Linked DNA regions of Homo sapiens: regions 1, 3 and 4 are each linked to region 2. The links come from fine-mapping of genetic effects on gene expression. A gene starts in region 2. Each other region holds a variant in brackets. All regions are shown on one strand. Distances are from middle to middle. Region 1 has its middle 16 kb from the start of CRISPLD2. Region 2 holds the start of USP10 (ubiquitin specific peptidase 10). Region 3 overlaps USP10 (ubiquitin specific peptidase 10). Region 4 overlaps CRISPLD2 (cysteine rich secretory protein LCCL domain containing 2).

The links. PIP is the estimated chance that this variant, and not a neighbour inherited with it, causes the effect.
Region 1: its variant is the best candidate, but not a certain one, in a credible set for the expression of USP10 in monocytes after LPS (Fairfax 2014, PIP 0.51).
Region 3: its variant is the best candidate, but not a certain one, in a credible set for the expression of USP10 in aorta (GTEx, PIP 0.68).
Region 4: its variant is the best candidate, but not a certain one, in a credible set for the expression of USP10 in whole blood (INTERVAL, PIP 0.64).

Annotation. Positions count from the first base shown.
Region 1 is chr16:84,800,361-84,807,624 of GRCh38, forward strand. No RefSeq gene overlaps it. Among named protein-coding and RNA genes, the nearest start is that of CRISPLD2, 16 kb to the right of the region's middle. RefSeq lists enhancers at 3,988-4,488, 5,656-6,234, 6,235-6,811 and a silencer at 6,196-6,395. The variant G/A (reference allele first, on the strand shown) is at 4,576.
Region 2 is chr16:84,698,191-84,702,190 of GRCh38, forward strand. It overlaps USP10 (ubiquitin specific peptidase 10), which reads left to right and starts at 1,810. Exons shown (of 14, transcript NM_005153.3): 1 at 1,810-1,921. The coding sequence starts at 1,901. RefSeq lists silencers at 1,282-1,801, 1,892-2,111, 2,122-2,231, 2,272-2,381.
Region 3 is chr16:84,741,233-84,748,982 of GRCh38, forward strand. It overlaps USP10 (ubiquitin specific peptidase 10), which reads left to right. Exons shown (of 14, transcript NM_005153.3): 4 at 3,401-4,441. Among named protein-coding and RNA genes, the nearest start is that of USP10, 45 kb to the left of the region's middle. The variant C/G (reference allele first, on the strand shown) is at 3,211.
Region 4 is chr16:84,878,931-84,882,930 of GRCh38, forward strand. CRISPLD2 (cysteine rich secretory protein LCCL domain containing 2) reads left to right here. Exons shown (of 15, transcript NM_031476.4): 13 at 1,579-1,654. Among named protein-coding and RNA genes, the nearest start is that of LINC02176, 47 kb to the right of the region's middle. RefSeq lists an enhancer at 671-1,870. The variant A/G (reference allele first, on the strand shown) is at 1,869.

The DNA.
Region 1 (7,264 bases), 100 kb after region 2:
GCCTACATTCAATCATTTAATCCTCCCAACAACACTGTGAGACTGACAAGATTCTTAGCTCCCCTCCATGGCTGATGAAGTGGCATCTCAGTGAACTGAAGGAAGTTGCTGGAATTCCAACCTGTGCTGTCCAATTACCAGGCCTATGATCTTGGCCCCTAAGCTATCTTTGGGAGGGCCTGCCAGTGCTTGGATTTCCTGTTTCTGTCTCTTTCCCTGCTGGCTGAAGTTAACAATCAGTATTTCACAGGGCCCTCTGAAATTTCCTTCCCCTTCAAATATCAGCCTTATGCTGGTACTGGGGATACCCAGGGAGTGAGACGTGGTCTCCAGCTTATAGATGCTCGAAGTAAAAGAGGAGATGGAACAATTGTCACAGTTACCTATTGCCACGGTGATGCTGAGTAACAAACCACCTGTAACTCTGTGGCTTTATTCTTGCTCTCTGTCTGCAAATCATCTGGGAAAATGGGGTGGGGTGGGGTCACCTGATCTATGCTGGGCTCAAGCTACAGGATGGATCCAATTCTACTGGACACTTTGTTCTGTGACCCGTGGATTGCCTGGGGCATTTTCTCCTTGTGGCCATGGCGGAAGCCCATCAATCAAAGCAAGTCACATGGCTAAGCTCAAAGTCAAGAGGTGGAAAGTACTCTTTGCCCACCACGAGGCCATGGTAGACCCCAAGGCCATTGGGCTGTAGAACAGACAGCAGAGTGGAGAACCAGAACCGATAATTCAATTCACCTCATTTATTTTAACAGGTGAGCAAAGCAATTTGCATGACAGCAAGATGTTGCTAAGGAAGACAAAAGATAGAAGCAACTGCCTACCTTGCCAACCACATGCCTTCACAGAGGAGGTGATGTCGGTGCTGGGTCTTGAAAGGTGGGGTTTCCCAGGTGGAGAGAGAGCATGTGCAAAGGTCCAGTGGCACAAAAGGCCCCTGTGGGCTCAGAGAGAAGGAAAAAGCTTAGTGCTACTGATGTGTAGAGGGGTGCATGTGCTTGCAGGTGGGTGGGGAGGGTATGGGGCAGGGAGCTGGGTGCAGTAGAGAGAGATGAACCCAGAAAGTTGCCAGTAATGAAGATAACTAAGGTCATTAATGGGCAGGGAAGTGTCTGGTCAGGCTTGGGTTTTCAGGTAATGATTCTGGCTGCAAAGTGGAGACCAGAGAAGAGGAACAATTAAAATAATTAACATGTGTAGGTTTTTCTTTAAAAAAAAAAAAAAAGAAAGAAACAGCCAGGCATTTTACATGCCTAATTTGAACCTCACAGCAACCGAGTGAAATAGGCATTATTGGCTGGGCGCGGTGGTTCACGCCTGTAATCCCAGCACTTTGGGAGGCCGAGGTGGGCAGATCACTAGGTCAGGAGATCGAGACCATCCTGGCTAACATGGTAAAACCCCGTCTCTACTAAAAAAATACAAAAAATTAGCCGGGCGTGGTGACGGGCGCCTGTAGTCCCAGCTACTTGGGAGGCTGAGGCAGGAGAATAGCATGAACCCGGGAGGTGGAGCTTGCAGTGAGCCGAGATCGAGCCACTGCACTCCAGCCTGGGCGACAGAGCGAGACTCCCTCTCAAAAAAAAAAGAAATAGGCATTATTAATTTTAATTTTAGCATAAAAAGAAATATATTTGCATTCATTTAAAAATCTTTCCTCATTGGCCAGGCTTGACCAGCTGGGAGCTCACTGTGCTCACCCTCAGGGAATGCTAACTTTTTTCTTTTTTTTTGAGACAGAGTCTCATTCTGTCACCCAGGCTGGAGTGCAGTGGTGCGATCTCAGCTCACTGCAACCTCTGCCTTCGGGGCTCAAGCAATTCTTCTGCCTCAGCCTCCCCAGTAGCTGGGATTACAGGCATGCGCCACCACGCCTGGCTAATTTTTGTATTTTTAGTAGAGACGGAGTTTCACCATGTTGGCCAGGCTGGTCTCGAACTCCTGACCTCAGATGATCTGCCTGCCTCGGACTCCCAAAGTGCTGGGATTATAGGTGTGAGCCACCGCACCCAGCCAGAACTTTTAGTGTTGTTGTTTGCTCCTGAAGCACGGAGGTTGATGTTCTCAGCCCCATTCCCCAGATGAGGAAAGCTGAGCCCTGGAGAGCCTGAGGAACATGCCCAGCGTCTCAAGTGAGGAAATGGTGGGCTAGGATCCAAACCCAGGAGGTGGGCAGCTGGCCACTGGGCCACAGCGCCTCCCCATAGGGTGAGTCCAGAGCCCCCAACCAAAATGGCGGATGGGCTGCAGGAGAAAGGAGGGACTGATGTGGCTTCTACCTGCGTCAAGTGGACCAGGTGTGGGACGAGTTTCAGGGGAGCAGGAAGGGAAGAGAGGAGTCAAGAATCCTCGACTGGCTGGGCGTGGTGGCTCGTGCCTGTAATTCCAGCACTTTGGGAGGCCGAGGTGGGTGGTTCACGAGGTCAGGAGTTCGAGACCAGCCTGACCAACATGGTGAAACCCCATCTCTACTAAAAATACAAAAATGAGCCGGGCGTGGTGGCACTTGCCTGTAGTCCCAGCTACTCAGGAGGCTGGGGCAGGAGAATCGCTTGAATCTGGGAGGCGGAAGTTGCAGTGAGCTGAGATCACGCCACTGCACTCCAGCCTGGGTAACAGGGCGAGACCCTATCTCAAAAAAAAAAAAAAAAAAAAGGAGTCCTCGACCATGCCGTATGCTTCCAGTTACAGAATATTCTTGAACAGGCAAGCAAGTCTACAGCAAAGCAACAGAAAGCAGATCCATGGTTGCTGGGGGAGGTGGGACGCAGATGGGCGTGATGGGAACATTCTGTATCATGGTGGTAGTTGGGCGGGTATAGACATCTGTTCCTCATCCAGCTGTCCACTTAAATGGGTACACGTGCTTGTGTATAAACCCCACCCCCTGTAAGGTTGATGTTAAAAGTGCTTCTGAGGCCTCCTATTGGTGACATTGCCCAGGTCGGTGGACGTCAGGGGATCCTATTTCTTAGAACACAGGGATGTCTTTCCGTCATTTGAATTTCTGGCTAGCCGACCTTTTTCCTCCTCAGCTGGAGCCCCTACCTGCCTCGGGGGACTAGGAAAGCTTAGCAGAACCTCAGCAGGAAAGCAACTTGTTTAGCTTTTAGAGTTCTCAGTGAGACCAGAGCCCTGGGAAGGAATGAAGAGGGGAACGGGGTTGCCCACATCCTTTGCACCCCTTTTGCATCAAGAGTCAGGCCCGTGGTCCTTGGCAAACTCACGCAGGAACCGAAAACCAAATACCGCACGTTCTCACTGATAAGTGGGAGTTAAACGATGAGAAGACATGGACGCATAGAAGGGAACACCACCCACTGGGGCCTGTCGGAGGGTGGAGGGTGGGAGCGGGGAGGGGATCAGGAAGAAGAACTCATGGATACTGGGCTTAATACCTGAGTGACGAAATAGTCTGTACAACAAACCCTCGTGACACACGTTTACCTAAGTAACAAACCTGCACATCCTGCACATGTACCCTGGAAATTAAAAGTTTTTTTTAAAAAAACGATTGTTTTACAAAGTCAGTGAAAAAAGGGCCAGGCGCGGTGGCTCACGCCTGTAATCCCAGCACTTTGGGAGGCCGAAGCAGGCGGATCATGAGGTCAGTAGATCGAGACCATCCTGGCTAACACGGTGAAACCCTGTCTCTACTAAAAATACAAAAAAATTAGCCGGGCATGGTGGCGGGCGCCTGTAGTCCCAGCTACTCCGGAGGCTGAGGCAGGAGAATGGCGTGGACCCAGGAGGCGGAGCTTGCAGTGAGCCAAGATTGCACCACTGCACTCCAGCCTGGGTGACAGAGCGAGACTCCGTCTCAAAACAAAAACAAAAAGAAAAACAAAAACAAAAAAACAACAAAGTCAGTGAGAAATTTAAAAGAAAAAAAAAGGTCAGGCCTATTGAACTTCAAACTTATTATCAGCCAGAGGGGATGGAAAACCCAGTGCCTCATGGAAGGAACACCCCAAACATAAGAAGGTGGAAAATCCTCCCTCCCAGCTCCAGCAAGGTGAGCGGACAGGTGAAAAAGAGCTTCTGCCCCTGGTCGGGACCCTGGAGTCAAGGGAGGAGGCAGATTAAGGAGGAGGCTGAGAGCGAACGTGTTACGAGGCAGCTCCCTCCAGTGCAAGGTGGAGGACAGCCCTCGTGCACAGTGGAGCAGCCCCAGCCTGGGTGACTCCCCAAGCCCTGTAGGCCGATGTGGCCCGGTATGTCCAAGCTTGCTGGAGTGGGTTAACTGGTGGCCCCCAGAATGATATATCCAAGCCCTGATGCCCAGAACCCGTGAATGTGACCTTATTTGGAAAAAGAATCTGGCTGGGCACGGTGGTTCATGCCTGTAATCCCAGCACTTTGAGAGGCCGACACAGGTGAATCATCTGAGGTCAGGAGTTCGAGATCAGCCTGGCCAACATGGTGAAACCCCACCTCTACTAAAAATACAAAAGTTAGCCGGACTTGGTGGTGCACATTTGTAATCCCAGCTACTCGGGAGGCTGAGGCACGAGAATCGCTTGAACCCAGGAGGCGGAGGTTGCAGTGACCCGAGATCACACCACC[G/A]CACTCCAACCTGGGTGATGGAGCGAGACCACATCTAAAATAAATAAATAAATAAATAAATAGGCTGGCTGCGATGGCTCACGCCTGTAATCCCAGCCCTTTGGGAGGCCGAAGTGAGTGGACCACAAGGTCAAGAGATTGAGATCATCCTGGCCAACATGGTGAAACCCCGCCTCTACTAAAAATACAAAAATTAGCTGGGCGTGGTGGCGCACGCCCGTAGTCCCAGCTATTCGGGAGGCTGAGGCAGGAGAATCACTTGAACCTGGGAGGCGGAGGTTGCAGTGAGCCGAGATCAGGCCACCGCACTCCAGCCTGGGCAACAGAGTGAGACTCTGTCTCAAAAAAAAAAAAAAAAAAAGAAAGAAAAAGTATCTTTGCTGTAATCAATAGAAGGTCTTGAGATGAGGCCATCCTGGATGACCATGTGTGCCCTAAGTGCAACCATGAATGTCCGTATAAGAAGAGAAGAAGGCTACGCGAGGACAGAGGCAGCGATGGGAGTGATGCGGCCACAAGCCAAGGAACACCTGGGGCCCCTGGAAGCTGGAAGAGGCAGGAAGGATCTTCCCTCTCTCCACTCTGCAGACGCTTTGATTTCAGACCGCTGGCCTCCGGAACCGGGAGAGAACACATCTCTATTGCTAGCCACCCAGTTTGCAGCAGTTTATTAGGACATCCCCGGGAAATTAATCACGGCTCCTGTCATGTAAAAAGATCGGTGGGTGGGCTCCGTCTTTGCCTCTCTGCAAAACCGTGAAGTCCCTAAACTTCCTTCCCACTCATCTAGGGGGAGAGGAGAGGAAGGAGGGAAAGAGCGAGGGCCCTGAGTGGCTCTGAGTGCACATGGGTGGGCTAGTTGCTGCAGAGACCACTGCAAATTAACAGAGATGATATAGAGAGACTGAGGCTGAGCATGGTGGCTCACACCTGTAAGCAGCACTTTGGGAGGCAGAGGCAGGCGGATCACTTGAGGTCAGGAGTTTGAAACCAGCCTGGCCAACACGGTGAAACCCCATCTCTACTAAAAATACAAAAATTAGCCAGGCATGGTGGTACAAGCCTGTAATCCCAGTACTTCGGGAGTCTGAGGCAGGCAGATCGCTTGACATCAGGGGTTTGAAACCAGTCTGGCCAACATGATAAAACCCCGTCTCTACTAAAAATACAAAAATTAGCCGGGCATGGTGGCACATGCCTGTAATCCCAAATACTGGGGAGGCTGAGGCAGGAGAATCACTTGAGCCCCGAAGGCGGAGGTTGCAGTGAGCTGAGATTGCACCACTGCACTCCAGTCTGGGTGACAGAGTGAGGCTCCGACTCAGAAAAAAAAAAAAAGAAACCAAGAGATGTCCTGTTGTCAAGGTTAAGTACTACCCCACCCCTCAACTGCCCTGTTAGGGAAAATAAGGCAGTTGCATTTTCAGACACGCAAGTGGGACCCGCCGAGATTAAAAATGCAAGAAGCAGCGGTTCACAGGATGCCGAGGATGACTGGACTTCCTGTCCACCCCCTGGGCCTGGCCAGAGCTTCTGCAGGCACTTCAGGCTCCCCTGATGGTGGCGGTGATGCCGTGGGTGCTCGGGGACAGTGGGAATGCAGTGACACCACTCGGGCTAGAGAACCCCCCGGAGGCTCTTGCATTGGTCGTCCTGGGCCATGCACAGCCTGGAACTGGCCGCTATCCAATTTTGCATCTGGGAAGTGTTCATCGATTGCTAGAAAAATAATCAGGTCGAACGCAGGCCATTTCCGGTAAAGAGGCTCTAGGGAAGCACCTTCAGGCCAGATGACTCAGGACTGTGCGGAGTGTGTGTGGTCTGGGAGCCGGCTGCCTGCCGGGCCCGGGTGCTCTGCAGGGAAACAGTTGGCTGCCTGAGGGCTCATTCATGGCTGTTTCCCCTGGAAGGGCGGCGCAGGAGCCCGGTTCTGCAGCCCTGCCGACGCCGTGTCACAGACACAGCTCTTCATGGATGCATCTGGTTTCCCATGGCTGCGGTAACAAGTGACCACAAGGTTGGCGGCTGGAAACAGCTTAAGTATCCCATCTTACGGTTCTGGAGGTCAGAAGTCTGAGATCGGCATCACTGGGCTAAAGTCAAGGTGTGGGCGGGGCTGGTTGCTCCTGGAACCTCCAGGGGAGAATCGTCTCCTTGACTTTTCCAGCTTCTAGAGGCTGCCTGTACTCCTGGGCTCATGGCCCCTTCGTCCATCCTCAGAGTGCATCACTCCAACCTCGGCTTCCATCATCACAGCACCTTCTCTTCTGACGCTGACCCTCTGGCCTCCCTCTTACAAGGGAGGCTTGTGATTCCGTGGGGGCCACAGGAGAATTCAGGCCGCTCTTCCCATGTCACCACCCTTAGCAGAATCACGTCTGCAGAGGCCCCGTTACAATGAATGCTGGGTCCAATCGCGTTTCCCAAAAATCCATGTCCACCTGGGACCTCAGAATGGGACCTTATATGGAACTAGGGTCTCTGCAGATGTAATCACATTAAGATGATGTCACACTCAACTAGGATGGGCCCTAATCTAGTGCCTGATGTCTTCATAAGAAGAGGAAAGTTTGGACACAGATGCACCGGGAAGGTGGCCATGTGAAGAGGAAGTCGGAGATTGGAATGGCCACAGACGGGACATCAGGCATTGCCGGCCACCAGAAGCTGAGACATGTGCAGATGGATC
Region 2 (4,000 bases):
TAGAGCCAACAATAGTAAACATTTTGCCATATTTGCTGTCTCTCCCTGAATGTTTATGTGTGTACATGATTTTATCTTTTGTTGAACCATTAAACAATAGTTTACAGGCATTATGGCCTTCACTCCTCAACTCTTCAGAATGCATCTCCTCACAATAAGGACATTCTCTCAGTGAGCACAGTATAATTATTACACTATAAAATTACCAATAATTCACGAAGATCACCCATATCCAATCCATATTCAAATGTCTCCAATTGTCAACAAATAGTAAAACCAGCTTAAAAGACATATCAGGATCCAAGCAAGATGACACATTGTATTTGGTTATGTTTTCTAGCTCTTCTATTTTGGAACAACCCCTCCCTACCACTTATATTTTTCTTTTCTTTTCTTTCTTTCTTTCTTTCTTTTTTTTTTTTTGAGACAGAGACTCGCTCTGTCACCCAGGCTGGAGTGCAGTGGCACGATCTCGGCTCACCGCAACCTCCGTCTCCGGGGTTCAAGTGATCCTCCCACCTCAGCCTCCTGAGTAGCTGGGACGCCTGGTGTGCCACACTACATCCCACCAATTTTTGTATTTTTAGTAGAGTTGGGGTTTCATCATATTAGCCAGGCTGGTCTCCAACTCCTGACTTCAAGTGATCCGCCCGCCTCGGCCTCCCAATGTGTGGGATTCCGGGTGTGAGCCGCTGCGCCTGGCCCACTTATATTTTTCATGGCATCCCATTTATGAAGAGACCAGGCTCCCTATTTTATGTAACGTGGGAATGGATCTTCCTGTTCATCTCCTCTGCTCAGTGTACGGTCTAGCAAGAGCAGACTCTCTGTAGGTGTTTGTTGAATAAATGAAACCAATAGTAATGGTTATTAATAACAATCCCAGTAGCCAATTTTTATTGACTATTCTCTTGGCCAGTGTGCTCACGTTAATCTAATTTGAACCTCACAGAAATCTTACGCGTTATGACATATTTGTCTTATTCACAGGTGAGGAAACCAAGGCTTAGGGAAGGAAAGTCGCTTGTCTGAAATCACAGCTAGAAAAGGGGCCAAAACCCAAGGGTGGACCCACTGGCTGGAAAACAGTGCAGTTAGGCAGGGGCCCCTGTTTCTTAATAATGAATGAACCAACGACCCCCAAGGCTGGTTTGCCCGTGCACACGCACGCACGTGTGCAACACGTAGCACTTGCTGAGTGTTTGCTACTTGCCAGGCCTCATGTCAAGCACTTTACGCGTGCTTTTATGCCCTACGTTTTGTTTTTGTCTGTTTTGCTTTTTTCCCCTAATGCCTAGCCAAAGGCGTGGCCCAGGCGCCCAGGCAGGACTTGGGGAGTGAATGAAGAGTGAACAAATGAATGAATGCGCGGCAACGGGATCTTCATAAACCAGACCCTCCTCGGGGATCTAATGCGAACACTCCCGAGGCCCGGGCCCAGGTACGCTGAGGGCGGCTCGTGGGCCCCAGGCCGACCTCAGCCCGCGACTCCCGGGCTCCGGGGGCCCAGGTGGCCCCCAGTAGGTGAGGAGCCGGGCCCGCCGGCGCCTTGGCGTTGCCACCTCTACCTGCCTGCCCTCTCCCCTTCCGGATCCACAGCCAGGCCTCGGCGGGCTCCTGGTGTGCAGCCGCCCGGCCGCTTCCGCCCGAGGGTCGCGGGGCTCAGAGTCCGGCAGGCTCCAGGCGGGGCAGGGGATGTCCGCGGCCCGGCAGGCGCACGCCCACCTGTCGGCCGCGCAGGCGCAGCAGCGGGCCGGCCTCCCCGCGCCCCGCGGCGCGCGGCCAGTGCGCAGGCGCGGCGGCCGATGCGAGTGTGTATGTGCGGGCGAGAAGATGGCGGCGGCGGGGGAAGCAGCGTGAGCAGCCGGAGGATCGCGGAGTCCCAATGAAACGGGCAGCCATGGCCCTCCACAGCCCGCAGGTAGCCGCCGGTCTGCGCCTTCGGCCGGAAGGGGCCCGAGCCCCGGGCGGGCGGACGCCGCGGCGGGCGGGCGTCCGCGCCCTGCCCGGAGCGAGCGTGTGGGAGTGGGGGAGGGCGCTGGGACACGCTGCCCGGGCCTAGGCCGGAGCCACCCGCCGCCTCCGCGCCCGCCGCGCCTTCGTCCCCTGAGCCACCCGGACCCCCTAGTCCCGGGGAGGTCGAAGGGCGGGGGCTCCGGGCCCCGCTTGGGGAGGGCGTGGAGGGCGCCGAAGGGGTTAACCTCCCTGGGGCTGGACCGCGGGGCGAGCCCGGGGTGTGGAGTGGGGCCCTCCCCGCCGCGCCGGCCGGGGGAGGCGGCCCGGGGGCTCCGGGAGTCCCCTGGAGCGCAGGGGCCCCAGAGCAGCTCAGGTTGCTGCCTCTGCCTGGAGCGAGCCTCAGAGATTTGGGGGTGCCCTGTTGCCCCTTTGCCCCAAGAGCTTCCTTTCTCAGCTTGATTGATGATGCGGGGGTTGCCGATTTTCTGTTTTTTAGATAGAAGTAGCAGAGTAGCGGCCTTGGGCTGCTGTTGCAAAGAAAACTCGAAATAAGTCGCAAGGACCGTACTTTCACTTGCGTTTGAGTGACATCCCTTGCACGAATCCATCCCAGCCAGGCTGACAACTAACGCACCCTGCCTGAACAGTAGCTAAAGCTTGGGGGCCCTTTACAATAATCCCGTGGTGGAAAGAAAGAGCTCTTTTTGGGAGATGTGCGTGTAGAGTTAAGCTCTTATTCCCCTCTCCCACCCCTTCTCTCACATCTTCTCCCCCCTCCGCCATTATAATTATTCTGGACAAAAATCGGCATGATGTATTATTTGTCAGCCTTGCTTTAGACTGCTAATTTGTTGACATCTGGTCCCTATAAATTGTTGCACACTTTTAAACCATCTCATTGTGTATTTGTATTAAATATGGGGAAATGAAACAAAGTAGCCATTCGGGAAACTGATTGCGAGTAAAATCATAACCCTTCATGAGCAATTGGGTTTTGTTGCCCTTCTGCAGATGAAGTCAATCTGACTACACCTCTTTTGAAACATGATTTTCGGAACTATTGTAATGAATGCGTGTTGTGGAATCTAAAATGCGAAAACTTTTTAAAAAATTAGATCTTACGACAAGCTTCAATTTTGTTAAATTAGCTGTAGTTTAGTTTGCATCAGAATTTCCCCCTTTAACGTTTTGTTCCCTTATTCATTTACTTTTGTAAGTAGTGTAGGTCTTTGCGCCAAAAAAGGGATCAGTAGTTGAATAATTTTTACAAATGTATAGCCCAAAGATTTTAAGAGATTTGGTGTATTTAGCTTTGTTTAGACCTTTCTGTTAAAAAAAAAGATTTGATATTTGCTTTTTTCTCAACTTAAATCCTAATTAACTAGCTTATTAGAATTGGTATGAACAAGTAAAAGGCTCATTATGAATTAATGTGTAATATTCCTTGTGATTTTGACATGAAGAAAGCATCTTTAGGCATAGCTCACTTCCTTTATTTAATAAGCATCAATCACAATTCAAGGTTGATTGAAATGTTAATTAATGGGGATGGATAATATGTAAACTTAATTGTAATTTCGTTTGCATTCATTGTCCCAGTATTTACGTTTTATACAACAGTCTAAAGCGTTATACACATCTTTAGAAAATTGGAGTAGCAAAAGTTGGCGGAACGTAAATGTTAGCAACACTTTGGGTTTATTCTTTTAAAGTATGATTTAAATGCTTTTAAGTTTTAGCATGGAGAAAGTAGCAAAGGAAATAGTTTGATTTCTCATAATTTTCTTCTTCTTTTTTTTTTTTTTTTTGAGTTGGAATTTGGCTCTTGTTGCCCAGGCTGGAGTGCTGTGGTTATTAACCTATAAACTTTTTTATTTATTTTGAGATGGAGTTTCGCTCTTTTTTTTTTTTTTTTTTTTTTTTTTTTGAGACGGGAGTCTTGCTCTGTCGCCCAGGCTGGAGTGCAGTGGCATGATCTCGGCCCACTGCAACCTCTGCCTCCCGGGTTCAAGCGATTCTCCTGCCTCAGCCTCCCAAGTAGCTG
Region 3 (7,750 bases), 45 kb after region 2:
ATCTAAAATTTTAGATTTATAAGAAATGTGGGAGACCATAAGGGAAAGAGCAGATCTAACAATAGCTTAGGACAAGTAATAAAATGAATGAAGCTTGAGGGACCGGGAAGCCGGGCTGCTCAGCCTCCTGAGCCACCTTTTAATTGGCTGATGTCAACCTCTCAGACATCTGAGTCAGTGGGACTTCCTCTGTCACTGTGTGCTTTGCACGTGGTGAGCATGCTGCTCATGTTGAACCAGTGCTTACAAATGCCCCATGATGTTCCCATGCACATCACTTCTTTGAGTTCACCCTCCTCCCTGTGCAGTGGGCACCACCAGCTCCCCCAGCCTCTGGAGTTCTGCTTCCCCCTCCCTCCTTCCAGCCTGCCTGCCCTTTTCAGTGACTGCTTCTTGGCCCTTTTTCTCCATTCTTTACTCTGTTCCCTCTAAGTCCTGCCTTTTTTCTGCCAAAAACACGACTGGAATCTTGCCACCAGTTTGCACAGTTAGTGACAGGCCTGCTTTTCTCTGCAGCCTTTCTGGGTATCTTGTGTTTCCATGACATTAGTTTCTCTTCCAGTGCCTGTTCGACTGTACAGAGCCTGTGGGCACTGTCATGGACCTGCCTCTCTTTCCAGCCTGCTCAGCTGCTGATGGCAGGATCCATTTCTCTGTGTCTGTCACTGCGCCTGTAGTATCTGGAATGTTGTAAGCCCTCAGTACATTTGTTGGATGAATGGTTTAGGATGCTTTATTCTGCTCCCTCCCACTACCTCCAGCTGCAGCAAGCCCTTTGCAGAGGCACCTCATCGTGGCTTCCCTTTTAGATCTCGGCCTTTTCTATTTTTGTGTTTTTTAATTTTTTTATATTTTAATTTTTGTAGGTACATAATAGGTGTATATATGTATGGGGTACATGAGATATTTTCATACAGGCATACAACAAGTAATAATCACATCAAGGTGAATGGTTGTCCTTCACCTCAAGCACTGCCTGTTTTAGATGTTCCTAAAGCTTGAGATACCACTCCTTCACCCTGCCCTTAGCAATTCAGTGATCCATCAAGTTCCACTGACCTCTCTAGTTTCTGATAGAAGTTGATCACTGTTTCCTGCATCCAGAAGAATCCTTTTTCTAAAGCTATTCACAGCTTTCTCTCCCCTCCCTCCATGTTTTCATTCTCAGTTGTTTGTATTTGTCTCCCTAATAAATGTGAACTCTCTGAGCAGGGCCCTTGTGTCACTAATCTCTGTATATTTCCCTCCCTCGCCCCCTGCCTTGTAGTCCAGTCCTCTCTACTGCATGTACTGCAGTGAGCAGCCTTGGAGAAATGCTGTGTTAGGATTCGTGGTTTTAAGAGCCTCTGCCTGCATTACCTGAGTATTGAGTTTCCATCTTCCTAATGTATTGATTGGGTTGTTGAAGCCAAGCGTGCAGGCCGTCCTGCACTTCGTCTGCCTGGCACATTGGGCTCTGAGCTCTCTGCCATGCGGTGCAAGGCACATGGCGTCCATTGTGAGTGTTCCTCCATAAGAAGAGGAACTGTGCTGGCTAGGAATCTGCCTTCTAGTGAGATGATCAAACATGGTATTGAGTAAATGTTTGATACTAATTATAACATACTGAAATGGTTCTGTTCACGTTACATCACATTCTAGAATGTTTTATGTTCTGATAAGATTGAGAATTGAGATGTGTACAGCACATCTGTGTCTTAGAAATAATCAGTCTTGCATAAGCTGAATGACACAACACGTTCTAGTTTCTAATGTGATTTCACAGCCTTCAAAGGGCAGGCTCCACATGGAGCCTTCCGCCCCAGGCACACCCGTTTCAATCTGGGGAGCCTTGACGGCCCCAGAACATCAGGGAATAGGGGATGTATGGAACCAAAATGAACAGCCAGCCCCTACATATGATAATAAATTCATTTCCCCTTGATATTCTTTTCAAAGTAAGGAAACAAAAAATAAATAGTAGCCAAAGGAATTAGATGGTCGTGACTTCATGCATAAACTTGCTGTTAGGTGTAATCGTCATCAGTGTTCTTTTCCAGGAACTTTCTCTTGTTGGGGCAGGATTGTGCTGCCACCACCCTTCACCCCCCACAGTCGGGGGCTGTGATTCTAAAGCATACGAAGATTCAGGAGGCCTCGGGAGGCTGTGTAGCTCCAGCCTCCTGCACACTCACTTGCACGTAACTGGCCCCTCTCAGCGTCTGTATTTTTTCTTCTACAAAAAGATTTCTAGGGGTCCTTTCAAGGTAAAATATATTCAGTTCTCCGCAGTAGAACACCGTTCTTTGGGTATTAGTTTCTTTTCTTAAGATAGATGCCTTGAAAAAAAAATTGGCCCCTTAATGCTAGCCTGGAAGAAATCTTCATGCATTAAAGATGAAATATAAGGCATGTGTCCTTCCCTTAACTTCAAAATGTGTAACTTTTTATCAAATATAAGGTGACATTGATGCTTGATTTCTGTTGAAAGACACAATTGATTCTAAAACTTAACCTGATTTCAGAGGTGTAAACTATAAAAATACGTCTGTCTTAGCAGGAATGAATTATGTGGATTGTGGTTAACTGGGAAGGAAGTATTGAAGGCTTCCCAAGAGATATTTAAAAGTTCACAATTCTAACTTTTTCTTTTGGTATTTTTGGAAGGCTTTACCACCCATGGGGTTAATCCAGTGTGAATTTATTTAGAGGACGTTTGCATGTGTTCATGTCAGGGCCATTTTTCAGACTTAATTGAAGGTTACCAGCGGAGGAGACCAAGAGATAGAGAATTCAGAAGAGTGCTCTGAAGTGCGCTTTTATATATAGGATTCTTTGTTGTTGTTGTTGTTGTTGTTGAATCTTTTTTTGACATCTTTTTTTTTTGTTTTTAAATTTATACTTTCTAATTTCTCCTATCCAGTATGTATAGGATTCTTTGCGTAGTTCATGTTTTTGGAATTAATCAAATCACGTTAACTACAGAAGCTGATTTAACCATGTTTTAAGTCCCTAAGTTAGTTGTCATGATCTTTTAAAATTTAAGTTGTCCAAAATACATATTCCTTTATCTCAGGCATAAGGCAGCTATAAGAAAGTCAGATTCCACTGGGGGGTATTTTTAAAATTGGCAAAATATTACTTGCTTTTTATTACAAATTTATTTTAATTTCTACCTTCTGAAAGCCTTCCTTAGCTAGAAAGATAAGTACAGGCTTCTGCTTTTCATAT[C/G]CCCAAATTAAATAATAATTTTATAGTTGTTTCATTTTCCGCAAATTGTTCAGCGTAAGTAAAGGACGTAATAGATTTGTTGATTAGGAAGAGAACTTAAGGTTTTTATTTTCAAAGAGAAAGTGAGTAATTACTGGTACTTAGAGTTTGTAGAACTGGGTTCTTAACTAATAGTTTTCTTTCTAAACAGGACAAGAATATCAGAGAATTGAGTTTGGTGTCGATGAAGTCATTGAACCCAGTGACACTTTGCCGAGAACCCCCAGCTACAGTATTTCAAGCACACTGAACCCTCAGGCCCCTGAATTTATTCTCGGTTGTACAGCTTCCAAAATAACCCCTGATGGTATCACTAAAGAAGCAAGCTATGGCTCCATCGACTGCCAGTACCCAGGCTCTGCCCTCGCTTTGGATGGAAGTTCTAATGTGGAGGCGGAAGTTTTGGAAAATGATGGTGTCTCAGGTGGTCTTGGACAAAGGGAGCGTAAAAAGAAGAAAAAGCGGCCACCTGGATATTACAGCTATTTGAAAGATGGTGGCGATGATAGTATCTCCACAGAAGCCCTGGTCAATGGCCATGCCAATTCAGCAGTCCCGAACAGTGTCAGTGCAGAGGATGCAGAATTTATGGGTGACATGCCCCCGTCAGTTACGCCCAGGACTTGTAACAGCCCCCAGAACTCCACAGACTCTGTCAGTGACATTGTGCCTGACAGTCCTTTCCCCGGAGCACTCGGCAGTGACACCAGGACTGCAGGGCAGCCAGAGGGGGGCCCCGGGGCTGATTTTGGTCAGTCCTGCTTCCCTGCAGAGGCTGGCAGAGACACCCTGTCAAGGACAGCTGGGGCTCAGCCCTGCGTTGGTACCGATACTACTGAAAACCTTGGAGTTGCTAATGGACAAATACTTGAATCCTCGGGTGAGGGCACAGCTACCAACGGGGTGGAGTTGCACACCACGGAAAGCATAGACTTGGACCCAACCAAACCCGAGAGTGCATCACCTCCTGCTGACGGCACGGGCTCTGCATCAGGCACCCTTCCTGTCAGCCAGCCCAAGTCCTGGGCCAGCCTCTTTCATGATTCTAAGCCCTCTTCCTCCTCGCCGGTGGCCTATGTGGAAACTAAGTATTCCCCTCCCGCCATATCTCCCCTGGTTTCTGAAAAGCAGGTTGAAGTCAAAGAAGGGCTTGTTCCGGTTTCAGAGGATCCTGTAGCCATAAAGATTGCAGGTATAGTTGAAAAGATACAAATCTAGAGTGAAGATGGGAGCAGACCTCATCAACTGGGCTTATAGACTGTGGTGTTACCCATAACAATGGCAGATTACCTGTGTGTTAATAGCAACGTCTGAAGGATGCCTATGTCTTAAATGTTCTCTAAAAGTAAGATAATATAGAAACAAATGGGAGGAGAGGGTTGTCGTAACTTTATGTTAAGTGAAAGATCCATGTCTGTTAGCAGTTCTTTTCTGTTGACAAGTTACATTTCCATTTCTTGCCTTTTGTTCAAGTAATTCTGCTCCACGGTATGAATGTATAATGGACTTTTTCTGTGATATACCTTTGGTATGATAATCCTGATTTGTACTCACTGTGTGCTCCTTTTTTATATTTCTTAAGATACAAGAAATCATTTTGTGAAATAACATGGTTTTTTTTTTTTGGATTGAGTAAATGGATTTTATTCAGAATTTTGATACACCAAGGTCAGCTCTTGAAGAGAAAAAAAATGTTAAGGGTTCAGCCCAAAGTTAATGTTTTATTTTAGAGTGCTAAGGCTCCAAAGTAGAAACAATTCACAATAAAAATAGAAAGCTGCATAATTCACAGATTGTTTTTAAAAAGTTACAGTAGGAAGTCAGAAATGCAGCAGGGTATGAAAGAGGTATGTGTCCTCACATAGCCACGTGTTGCTTAACTAAGATGGATATGTGTTCCGAGATGTGCGTGTTAACATCAGAGAGTACTACACAAATACAGGTGGTAGAGCCTTAGGCTGGTGGTGCAGCCTATTACTCCCGGGCTGCAAACCTGTCCAGCGTGTTACTACTGAATACTGTAGGCAGTTGTAACACAGTGCTAAGTATTTGTGTGCCTGAACACATTTAGACATAGAAAAAATATAGTACAGATATGGTATAAAGGATGAAAAGTGCTTCACCTGTATAGAGCACTCACCGTGAATGGAGCTTGCAAGACTGGAGTGGCTCTGGATGGGTCAGTGATGAGTGCTGAGTGAATGTGAAGGCCCAGGACAGTACTGAGCAAAGCCGAGTTTTATAAACAGTCAACACTTAGGCTGTACTACGTTGATTTACAAATTTTTCCTCAATAAGAAATTAACCTTAACCTACTGTAACTTTTTTACGTTTTATTTTACTTTTAAATTAAAAATTCTAAACTTTTTGACTCTTTCATGAGAACATTTAGCTTAAAACACACACTACAGCTATACAAAAATATTTTCTTCCTTTTTATTCTTACTTTCCTATAAGCTTTTTCATATTAAAAATTGTTTTTAACTTTTTAAACTTAAAAAGTAAGACACAAACATTAGCCTGGGCCTGCACAGGGTCAGGAGCATCAAGACGCCACTAGGCGGCAGGACGTTTCAGTTCCACTAGAATCTTGTGGGACCATCATACGTGCGGCTCATTGTTGACCGAAATGTTACGCCGCGCGTGACTGTACGTACCTAAGAAGCAGAAGCTGTGTCATCAGGTTGGATTCCACCAAGCCTGGTGACCAGATCTTCAGATTGTCACCCTAGTAGCCAAGTTAAAATAAGCTGTTTGGTTTAGGCTTTCTGTAATACTTTCTGATGTGACCTTTTGGAACACCTGACACCCTTCATTACCAGGATGTAGCAGCAAGCTGCCAAATGCACACCCTTCGATGGATGGTCAGAATTGTGTAAAAAATAAAACACATTCTTTGGGTGGCAATAGGGTGATAGCAAGCAATGTATATATATTTTTAAGAGTATTTTATTCCTTATACAAAATACATTATCTCAGGTACTCTTGTTGTTCTGAAGTTCTCTTAAATGAGCAAATGATAGGCCAGACGTCGTTATTTTGGGCTTCATATATATTTTTTAAAGCCAGGTGATTTTTTTTTTTTTTTTTTTTTTTTTTGAGATGCAGTCTCACTCTGTTGCTCAGGCTGTAGTGCAGGAGGCACGATCTTGGCTCACTACAACCTCCGCCTCCTGGGTTCAAGTGATTCTCCTGCCTCGGCCTCCCAAGTAGCTGGGATTACAGGCACATGCCACAATGTCTGGCTATCTTTTTTTGTATTTTTAGTAGAAATGGGGTTTCACCATGCTGCCCAGGCTGGCCTCAAACTCCTGACCTCAAGTGATCTGCTCGCTTCAGCCTCCCAAAGTGTTGGGATTCCAGGTGTGGGCCACCGCACTCAGGCCAGGCGATTTCTTGAATACAGCTTTCAGAATGTATTTATTGCAAGGACTGATACTGTAGGTGGATGACAAGGTCAGGAGATCGAGACCATCCTGGCTAACACGGTGAAACCCCGTCTCTACTAAAAAAAACCTAAAAATCAGCCAGGCGTGGTGGCGGGCGCCTGTAGTCCCAGCTACTCAGGAGGCTGAGACAGGAGAATGGCGTGAACCTGGGAGGCGGAGCTTGCAGTGAGCCGAGATGGCGCCAGTGCACTCCAGCCTGGGCGACAGAGCCAGACTCCATCTCAAAAAAAAAAAAAAAAAAAAAAAAGATAGATTGTGTAAGCCTTTATATAGATTACTAAGTTAAAAGTTTATTTTTAACCTATAATGAGAAATGCATGGTGGGGTCCTGTTAAAAATGTGCATTCTAAGTTCGAAGTCATGAGAATTTTATTTTCTTTTCTTTATTTTTGAGAGGGGGTCTCACTCTGTCGCCCAGGCCGGAATGCAGTGGCGCAATCTCGGCTCACTGCAACCTTCTCCTCCTGGGTTCAGGCAATTCTCCTGCCTCAGCCTCCCTAGTAGCTGGGACTACAGGTGCCTGGCACCACGCCAGGCTAATTTTTGTATTTTTAGTAGAGACCGAGTTTCACCATGTTGGCCAGGCTGGTCTTGAGCTCCTGACCTCAAGTGATCCTCCTGCCTCAGCCTCTCAAAGTGCTGAGATTACAGGCGTGAGCCACCGCGCCCAGCTGAGAATATTATAGTTTCGTTTCTAAAATTGCTCCACAAAGGAAAACCTCCCATCTTAGGGAGATTTTCTCTATCTTTATTTAAAATAACCAAGAAAAGCTTCATTTAAAATGTTTTAGAACATTCTACTTAGTCATATGACTTTAAATATAGTTTGATAAATAGTTTGTTATGTTCTGTATATGTTAAAGTCTAATTGAAGTAGCTTTGTCAAACACTGAAAGTAAGGGCCTCTTAATGACTGGTAGTAGAGGAAAGCCTTGCCACACACAGTCCACGTAATTATTTTTGTGTGGACATATTGTAAACCCCTACCAAACAGATTATTTTTTTAATCCTATTTGGTTAGGTCAGTTATGAAGATGTTTTAATTTTCTGAG
Region 4 (4,000 bases), 180 kb after region 2:
AGGATGAAGACAGCTGCCCTGGAGGCTGGGTGGTGTGGCCCTCATGAGCCCTCATCCTGGGCTGGAGACCTGTGGATTCTCCAAGGGACAATAGGTGGTGACCCCAAGGTTCCGAGCAGGGAAAGGCCCAGGAGGGTGACTGGTTGGGAGGGGCCCAGACTGCTTTCCCTTGACTGCCACCCCACTTCAGGCTTTCTCTGGGCCTCCACTGCCTCCGCACCACCGTCTTGATCCCCCTTGAATGTTCGAGTGGGGATAACAGCCTTTTAGTAGATTTTCCCTGAATATTAGAGAGAAGCAGAAGGAAAGAATTTCAGAAAATACAAACAGAAAAACTTGACACAGTGCAATATGCAAAATGTTAATTTCTGATCTGCCATTCCAAAAGAAGTAGGAAAGAATGGAGACTGTTCTTAGACTCTTTCCAATTCTTTTTTTTTTTTTTTTTTGAGACTGAGCTTCGCTCTTGTTGCCCAGGTTGGAGTGCGGTGGTACAATCTCTGCTCACTGCAACCTCTGCCTCCCAGATTCAAGCCATTCTCCTGCCTCAGCGTCCCGCGTAGCTGGGATTACGGGCCTGCACCACCACGCCTGGCTAATTTTGTATTTTTAGTAGAGATGGGGTTTCACCATGTTGGCCAGGCTGGTCTCGAACTCCCGACCTCAGGTGATCCACCCACCTCGGCCTCCCAAAGTGCTGGGATCACAGGTGTGAGCCACTGCACCTGGCCTTCTTTTTTTTTTTTAAATCCACACACACACCCTTTCTCTCTACCCACTCATTTCCCTTCCTCCCAGCCCCTAAGAACTGTTTCAACTTCTCAGTCCCTTTGCCTGGCCTTCTTCCTTCCCATAATCCTGCCTGCCTGGGGCCAGATGGCTTCCGGCTGCCATTTTGGTTTCTTGGTCCCTGGGCTCCAGCCCACGGTGGACTGTTCCAGATAAACACAGAAGATCTTTTCTTAAGTAAAGCCCGTGCTCTTTCCTGGCTTGAGTTTGTCAAACCACCCAGGGGTCACCCATTTCCAGTTTGAGGTGCTTTCCTCATGCCCTGGAGGATCTGTGGTGACTGACACACAGTGATCTAACCCCTTCCACCCCAGGTTATCAGTGCCCCCGCCTTGGAATATTCTGTGACTCAGCGAGGTGAGGGCCCTCCACCCTTTCCTCCTCCACACAGGGAAGCGGCCTTAGAAAAAGTCTCTTGATGCTAATCTCCATAATGTACCCACAGTGTGAACTAGCCAACATCCAAGAATGGGAGGGGCAGCCTCACAATTCCACACTCTTCTCTCTTAGATTTTTATTCTCTTTACCTTTTTGTTTGTGCATGTCTTTTGTGGATGTGTGTGTGTTTTTAAAAATTCTATCTACACTGTTTAAGAGAAGCAAAAATAGTAATATCTTTACCTCTGCTGAGGGGGGAGAAGTATTGTTTTTTTTCTTAATGAGGAAAACTGTATGGCGGTTTCCTTTCATCTACGAACTTAAATCTTGGAATTCAAATAAAGAGAGCCAGCTTAAGAAGTTTGGTTTTCTGTGCTCAGACCCATCACATAAATGCTTCCTGTTTTTCAGAATCCATTGTCCGGCACACTGCAAAGACGAACCTTCCTACTGGGCTCCGGTGTTTGGAACCAACATCTATGCAGATGTGAGTAGGATGCATTTTCAACAACTATCTCGCAAAGCCTGTTAAAGACCTCAACATGCAAGCTCCAAGATCTGGATACTTGAAACTTTATTCCAGTGCCTCTTAGCTAAATTAATTAATTAATTAATTAATTAATTTCGAGATGGAGTCTTACTCTGTTGCCCAGGCTGGAGTACAGTGGAGTAATCTTGGCCCACTGTAACCTCTGCCTCCC[A/G]GGTTCAAACGATTCTTGTACCTCAACCTGCCAAGTAGCTGGGGTTACACAGTGCACCACCATGCCTGGCTAATTTTTGTATTTTCAGTAGAGACAGGGTTTCACCATGTTGGCCAGGCTGGTTTCGAACTCCCAACCTCAGATGATCCGCCCACCTCTGCCTCCCAAAGTGCTGGGATTCCAGGTGTGAGTCCCCACACCCGGCCAACCTCTTAGCTAAGTTTAGACCACTCATTTCTGCAAACATTTTCCCCATTTCCCCATTTCTAGAGATAGTAGTGCTTCTACCTACCTGTCCTCACAAATGCAGATTCAGGAGTGCCTGGCCTTACTTAAATGTTTTCGCAGTTTGAAGGCTCTCATGCTTCAGATAGTTCATTTTTCCGGCTATTTAGTCATCTTCCCAGCTCTCCGGATGCATTTATAGAAACTGGTCCACGCACTGTATTTCTTCTCAGTTATGCACACACTTAGCTAAAAGCACAAAGAAGATAATACAGACCACCCTAATTTACTGCTTGTTGATAGCCACTCTGGTTATACCAATCTCTTCCTCTGTTTTTTCCCTCCGAATTTTAACCAGGGAGCTTTAGCCCGGTTTTTCTTAGGTGGATCCTGCAGAACATTGTCTGTTCCCTCTGGTTGTCCAGGGTTTGGGGACATGGTGACCCAGACAATGTGACTGTGGTCCCACTTCTGCTGCCAGCAGGCTGTGTGATCTTGTCAAGCTGTTTCCTTGTGGCGGAACGGCCCAGAACCGGGATTATCAAATCCAGGGAATCTTCTAGATCTAAAATTCTGTGATTAGGGCAGCATCATTCATCTCTAGCTAATGTTTTTTATTTTTTTATTTTCTGAATAGAGGCAAGGTCTCACTATGTTGCCCAGGCTGATCTCGAACTCCTGGGCTCGAGCGATCCTCCCTCCTTGGCCTCCCAAAGTGCTGGGATTATAGGGGTGAGCCACTGCACCCGGCCTCCAGATAGAGCTTTACTCAGCTGCTTGTCATCATCCCCTCCTTTACAGCTCTCTCCCGCTTCCCCGCCATCATCTTTGCCTCTGTCTGCCTTAATGTGTTCCAGATTCCTGTAAATATGAGGTCACTGGGCTCTGTAAGGTCAGAGCAGGCTTCATGACTAAGCTTATCTCCCCCCATCTTTTTTCTTTCCTCTTTAAATGGGTCTTTTTTTCTTCTTGAAAGTGATTCAGCTAAAATTGAGTTATAAGAGTTAGAATTTTTATGAAGGAGTAAAATAATATTGTCGATTATTACACCAAATGTTTGAACCAAATTCTACCATTAAGAGACAGAGGCTGAGGTTTTCAAATGATTTAAAAATAAAGAGCTGGGCAAAGCAATCCCAGCCAAATACAAACAAACACATGAAAAGCAAGAGTGGCAATATTCCTCTCTGAAAAAGTGGAATTTAAAGTTAAATGTACTGAATGAGACAAAGTAATGTTACACAATGGCACAGAAGATACAATTTACAGGAAAAGGAATAAAAACTGTACACACCAAACAATATAGCAGCTAAACCAATAAAGCAAAAAAAAAAAAAAAAAAAAAAAAGCAAGAACTTAATGGATATTTGCAACAATAGAAGGCTACTTTTTTTTCTTTTTTTGAGACAAGAGTTTCACTCCTGTTGCCCAGGCTGGAGTGCAATTGCACGATCTCGGCTCACTGCAACCTCCCAGGTTCAAGAGATTCTCCTGCCTCAGCCTCCCGAGTGGCTGGGATTACAGGCACCCGTCACCACACCCAGCTAATTTTTGTATTTTTAGTAGAGACGGGGTTTCACCATGTTGGCCAGGCTGGTCTCGAACCCCTGACCTCAGGTGATCCACCCACCTTGGCTTCCCAAAGTGTTGGGATTACCAACATGAGCCTCTGCACCCAGCCAGAAGGCTACCTTTTATTCAACACATACTATGTTTTAGGTCCTTTCTTTAAAAACACCGTCTCTAGGTATCGTTATCCTTATTCCTGTAGGAAGAAAACAAGGCTCATAGTAACCTGTCCAAATCCACACAGTGAGCACGTGGCAAAGGTGACAAACAGGTGAACATGTGTCCGGCTTTCGACTCTGCTCTTTCCCTGGTGTATGCTGCCTTGCTTGATGTTACCT